2 separate regions of the Homo sapiens genome follow, and region 2 is linked to region 1. Evidence: fine-mapped expression QTL. A gene starts in region 1. The other region holds a variant in brackets. All regions are shown on one strand. Distances are from middle to middle.

Region 1 (2,911 bases):
TCCTCCCCCGGAGAGCCCCGGGGCGCATCCTCAAAAGCATCCTCCTCACCCTCCTCATCCGTGTCCCCAGCCCCTCGCACGGGGGCTCCGGCCGCTTCCTCCCCCGGCCCGGCCTCGGGAAATGGGAAAGCCGTGGAGGAGGGCGAGTCTTTGGCCGCGGGTTGCGCTGCCGGGAGACTGGGCGCCTCGGAGACCGGGAGGCCGCCGGGGGACGGCGGTTGCTGGGGCTCCCGGGGCTCGGCGGCCAGGCTCTCGGGCAGGTCGGAGAGCGCGGACAGCGCCTGCTCGGTGTCCGGACTGCCCGGGGCCTCCCCAGCCCCGCCGCTCGGCCCCAGCAGGAACCGGTCCAGGCCCAGGAAGGCCCCGGGCTGAGGGGAGACGGCAGTGGGGGGCGCTGCAGGCTCCTCGGCGCCCTGGAGCTGCTGCTGCTGCTGCTGTTGCTGGAGCTGGAGCTGGAGCTGCTGCTGCTGCTGCTGCTGCAGGCGGATCGCCTGCTGGATGTCTGAAAGCAAATCCTCTTGCTCCGTAGCCGAATGGAAGCTATAGATGTCCGTGTCCGAGCCCGAGCTGGTCCTTTGTCCATCCTGCGCCCCTGCTGCAGTTTCCACATCCTCGGCGATCGGCCGGCCCCCGACCCTAGCCTCGGCAGGCCCAGGACCCCCTGGACCGGTCACCTCAAAAGGGTCCGCACACTCGGTATCCGACAGGCCGGCCTCGTCCGCCGAGAGGCTGAGGTCTGGAGTCTTGGTGAGCAGGGAGTGAGCGCTGTCCAGCTCCCCGGTCTGCAGGGCCTGGGAATCCAGTACATCTTCGCGGGAGCCGCCGGCGCCTTTCCCCTTGGACAGATTCTTCCTGATCCGCAGGTTGGAAAACACCGAGGCTCTGGAGTCGGACTTGCTCTTCTTCTTGCCCGACTCCCCGCCGCCGCCGCCGCCCCCTCCCCCCTTGCCGTGCTTGCCTAGCGCCTTCTTGCCCCCGCTCCCCTTCTTTGTGGCTTCCACATCCCTGGGCCCCAGCGCATCCTCGGCGCCACCGCCGCCTTCGTGCAAAGCATCACCTGCGCTCCTCTTCAGCTTCCCATCCTGGTTCCCCATGGTGCAATCCCGCTGCTGCGCCGCCGCGCCGCGGGCACTCAGGCCATCCCGGCCCTCCTCGGCCCCAGGTCCGGGCCTAGGGAGTCTCCCGGGAGAGTCAGGCGGCGGCGGGGGGAGCCGCTGGGAGGGGAGGCCGACGCGCGCCCGGCTGGCCCCGCTCGCATCTGCCGCCGCTTTGCATAATGCGCGGCGGCTCCCGTGGCTGCCGTCGCTGCGGCTGCGGCTGCGGCTAGGGGCCGGCGGGGCGCGAACATGCTCAGTGCAGAGCGCGGCGCCCACCAATGGCTGCGCAGAACGCAGCTCGGGCCTGGCTCCCCGCCCGCCGCCGCCGCCCCCTCTGCCCCCGCGCGGCTCCTCGCTGAACCTGGGCGCGAAAAACGTTTCCTCTATCTCGGGGACTTTAATCTCCACCGTGCGAATCGAATGCATTGTCCCCGACCGAAGAGATCGTCAGCTGGAAGATGCACTCTGATCTTCAAAGCTGCTGGACCTGCCAAGAGAAAAGTTAAATAAAAAAGAAGAAATTTTTACACGGAGAAAAACTGAAGCCCAATTCCAGTTTAGAGGTGCCATCGGGTCACAGCCACATACACAACCCCCTGTCTGCCTCTGCATGGCTGTTCAATAAATATTTGTTGAATGAATGGATTGTTCTGTTTCTTGAATAATTGATCATCTAATTGAACACTGTTAATGTGCTTGAGCATATGGTTTAGGAGAGGTTACTACACATGGTGCTGCTTTTATGTTTCACACACAGACCCTGCTTCTCCAGGAGAGGACATTAGCTGTCATTTATAAAATTGGTTTGTGATTTTTTTGTTGTTGTTGACAGAAGGAGAGGTAGGAGAAGTAGAAAATACTGAGATTAGTGTTGATTAAAATGCTAGTCTCCAAATTCTATGTGTTTACCATATAAATTAAACAGCATTTGTATTCAAAAAGGGTGCATATACGATAACTCCCAGGAGGTCAAACTCATCAATATTAAACATGTCACTATTGTGGCTGCCTATAAAAAGGAAAAAGACAGAAAGGAAACACCCTTGGCACAAACACACAAAATCAGATGTTATGCTATAAACTACCACTTTCCCAAGCAAACCCTTCCAGGCAGACTTCGTCCTGTAAAAGTTTCTTAACGTTCTGGCCACAATATGGGGATAAACATTTTTCCTCATTGAATATTTTGTCATTGTTTTCATTATTTATTAAATTTAGTTACCTATTTTTTAAGAATAGTTTTTTTAAAAAAATATGGATATCTAAAGCTTTAAGCAGTAAACTGAGATTAAAGTGGCATTAATAAGTTTTACAAGTATTTAAGTAAAAGTCATTGATAACCACTTTGAAAATATGGAATAGACATCCAACTTATTAATATTTTCAAAATAACCCAGAGGAGGGAGAAAAGCTATATATTATACTGTGCAACTTAAATGTAGCAAGCAAATGTGTAGTCTTCCTTTGCATATTATGAACCAGCCTTTAAAATTCTTTTTTAAAAAAGGTTGGTCTTGTAAGTCTTTGGTTACTAACCTTTTTCAAACTATGTTTTTAAAAATAAATGTAATTTAAGGGCAGTTAGCCAGTTATCCTTAGGTGGCCCTTTCGAGTAAATGCTTTAGAGAAATCAACTTTAATAACTTTGCCAGGGTTATATCCCAGTCTCCAAGCAATTCCGGAGTACATGAAAAGCCTTTGTTTCACCTCTTTCACAAGACTGCTCTCTCCTTTTTTCTAGAATCTAGGCTCCTCAGAGGGCACAATTTGCCTGCAGCTATTAGAATTTTCTGCTTCTTTGAGTGCTGAGGTAC
Region 2 (2,911 bases), 30 kb after region 1:
TCAGTTTGTGAGGAAAGAATTTATCTTGTTCATGCCCTGATGGTTGACATCAGAAAAAAATAGCCAAGACCATGGACATCTCAATTGGTTCAGCTTCACAATTCTGACGGAAAATTAAATTTGAGCAAACTTTTCACTCAACGTTGCCGAAGCCTTTGTGCCCAGATCAGCTGCAGACAAGAACAGAGCTTTCAACTGAAACGTTAAACAAGTGAAATCAAGATCCTAAAGCATCTCCTCAAAGAATTGTAACAGGAGATGAAACACGGCTTTACCGATATGATCCTGAAGACAAGGCACCATCAAAGCAATGGATATCCAGCAGTGGTAGTGACCCAGTCAAAGCAAAAGCAGGGGCTGGGAGTGGTGGCTCACGCCTATAGTCCCAGCTACTAGGAAGGCCAAGGTGGGAAGATTGCTTGAGCCCAGGAGCTAAAGACCAGCCTGGGCAACGTAATGAGACCCTGTCTCTGTTATATAATTTCTTAAAAAATAAAATAAATAAAAAAGCAAAACCAGTCAAGCACAAAGGTCATGGCAACAGTTTTTTGGGATGCTCCAGGCATTTTGCTTATTGACTTCATGGAGGTCCAAAGAATGATAACATCTGCTTATTATAAGCATGTTTTGAGAAAGTTAGCCAAAGCTTTAGCAGAAAAATTCCCAAGAAAGCTTCACCAGAGAGTCCTTCTCCACCATGACGATGCCAATGCTCACTTCTTCTCATCAAACAAGGGCAATTTTGCCACAGTTTCAATGGGAAATCTTTAGACATCCACCTTCCAGTCCTGATTTGGCTCCCTCTGACTTCTTTATGTTTGCTAATTTTAAAAACATATTTAAAGGGCATTCATTCTTCTTCAGTTAATAATGTAACAAAGATTGCATTGATACGGTTAAACTTCTAGGACCCTTAGTTCTTTAGGGATGGACTAAATGGTTGGTATCATCACTTACAAATGTGTCTTAAACTTGATGAAACATACATTGAGAAATACAATTTATATATTTTTTAAATCTTTTATTTCAATTTTCCATGAACTTTCTGAAGTCCTCTTGTGTTTAGCTTTCTCTGGTTGGTCCTGAGTTGGATGGGGTCAAGGAGAGAGGGAATAGGGAGGGAAGCTGGCAGTCATTGACCATTCAACAGCCCTGAATGTTCTGAGTCAATGCTACAGAGGTTGTGGTTTGGTTGACATCCTGGACTGGTTGCTTCAGAGGTTGTGGGTCAGTTGTCATCCAGGGTCTGGCCATTGTCTGTTTGTTTATTCTGTCTCTCATGAAAACTTTTGTCTCTAAGGCTCTGCTCACCTTTAGACGTTCATTTCAGCATAGCACAGTTCCTCTTTCCCCACCTCCAATCCACACCGCCATTAGAAACTCCAAATATACTGACGGATTTATTTACTGTTTTTTTGTTTGTTTGTTTGTTTTTAATGTGCTGTCTACTTCTTCTCGTCTCTGGGGTTGCCATTAAAGCTGTCTGGAAAACTTTTCTGCTCCCCTCCGCCACCCTTGCATTCCGTGCTAAGTTCTACCCAACTTCAGATTGCAGGTTAGAAGTCACTTCATCCAAGAGCTCATCCGGGACCCTTCAAATTTCTCGAATATGCTCTCAGAGCCCCTAACCTTGGCTTCA[A/G]TGATCACATTTATCACATGTTGTGGCTCAGAAACCAATACCCAACCAATACCCCAAAATATAGCACTTTGACATGTTGAACTGAAGAAGAAGTCTCAAAGTCTATCTGATCTTCCCTGTTCCCCTCTGGCCCCAGGTCTGTCTCTCAGTCCTCTGTCTCTCCCAAAGGATGAGGTTGTTCTCCTTATCCACCTAAAGTCTGGACCTCTCGTCCCTTCCCTGAGTTTTCGTCACTGAACTCATTGCTGGAAGAATGACTGAAGTCTGTCAACACATCTGGACACATTTTCGTCACGAACCATTGTCTGCTCTGCGGGCCCCACAGACAATGTTCCAGACCATTGTATGTGATTCAAGCCCATTAAATTCTCCGAAAAAATCACTTACTACCCCATTAAAATCATCCATACTTCCCCATCTCCCTTTCACCTAAGAAGAAGGGTAAATAAGCATCTATCGCCACTGCATAATGGGGATTTCCCTCTTGTGGCATGCTAATAAATTTGTATACCATTTCTCTCTCTCTGTTTTTTTTTTTTTTTTTTTTTTTTTGAGACAGGGTCTCACTCTATTGCCCAGGCTGGAGTGCAATGGCACAATCACAGTTCACTGTAGCCTTGGCCTCCAGGGCCTGGGTGATCCTCCCACCTCAGCCACTTGAGTAGCTGGGACCACAGGCATGCACCACCATGTCCAGCTAAATTTTTTTTTTTTTTTTTGAGACTGAGTCTCACTCTGTCACCCAGGCTGGAGTGCAGTGGCACGATCTCAGCACACTGCAACCTCTGCTTCCCAGGTTCAAGCAATTCTCCTGCCTTAGCCTCCTGAGTAGCTGGGATTACAGGCACGTGCCACCATGCCCAGCTACTTTTTGTATATTTTGTAAAGACAGGGTTTCGCCATGTTGGTCAGGCTGGTCTCCAACTCCTGACCTCGTGATCCACCTGCCTTGGCCTCCAAAGTGCTGGAATTACAGGCGTGAGCCGCCACACCCAGCCTGCCCAGCTAAATTTTGTAACTTTTTTTTTGTAGAGATGGGGTCTTGCCATGTTGTCCAGGCTGGTATTACAGGCATGAGCCACCACGCCTGGCCTCTCCTATTAATTCGACTTTTGTCAGCTGATTTTCAGTGAACCTTCAGAGGGCAAAAAGGAAGTATTATGGTGGCCTTTACACATATTTCAAAGTGTTTGCCTATTTGCTTGCCTGTCTCTCTCCTCTAGATTTCATACCTCTGAGGATAGGGCAGTGTCTTATTTACTATTATATCTC

Which allele goes with the higher level. Positions count from the first base shown, and alleles are read on the strand shown. Sizes are in standard deviations (SD) of each study's normalised expression.
With allele A in place of G in region 2, the expression in tibial nerve of the gene that starts at base 1,321 in region 1 is higher (small effect, 0.33 SD a copy in GTEx).

Evidence for each region. PIP is the estimated chance that this variant, and not a neighbour inherited with it, causes the effect. A credible set is the group of variants that fine-mapping cannot tell apart.
Region 2: its variant is the best candidate, but not a certain one, in a credible set for the expression of FMN2 in tibial nerve (GTEx, PIP 0.79).

What each region holds. Positions count from the first base shown.
Region 1 is chr1:240,090,293-240,093,203 of GRCh38, reverse strand. It overlaps FMN2 (formin 2), which reads right to left and starts at 1,321. Exons shown (of 18, transcript NM_020066.5): 1 at 1-1,321. The coding sequence starts at 1,094.
Region 2 is chr1:240,060,149-240,063,059 of GRCh38, reverse strand. No RefSeq gene overlaps it. Among named protein-coding and RNA genes, the nearest start is that of FMN2, 30 kb to the left of the region's middle. The variant A/G (reference allele first, on the strand shown) is at 1,640.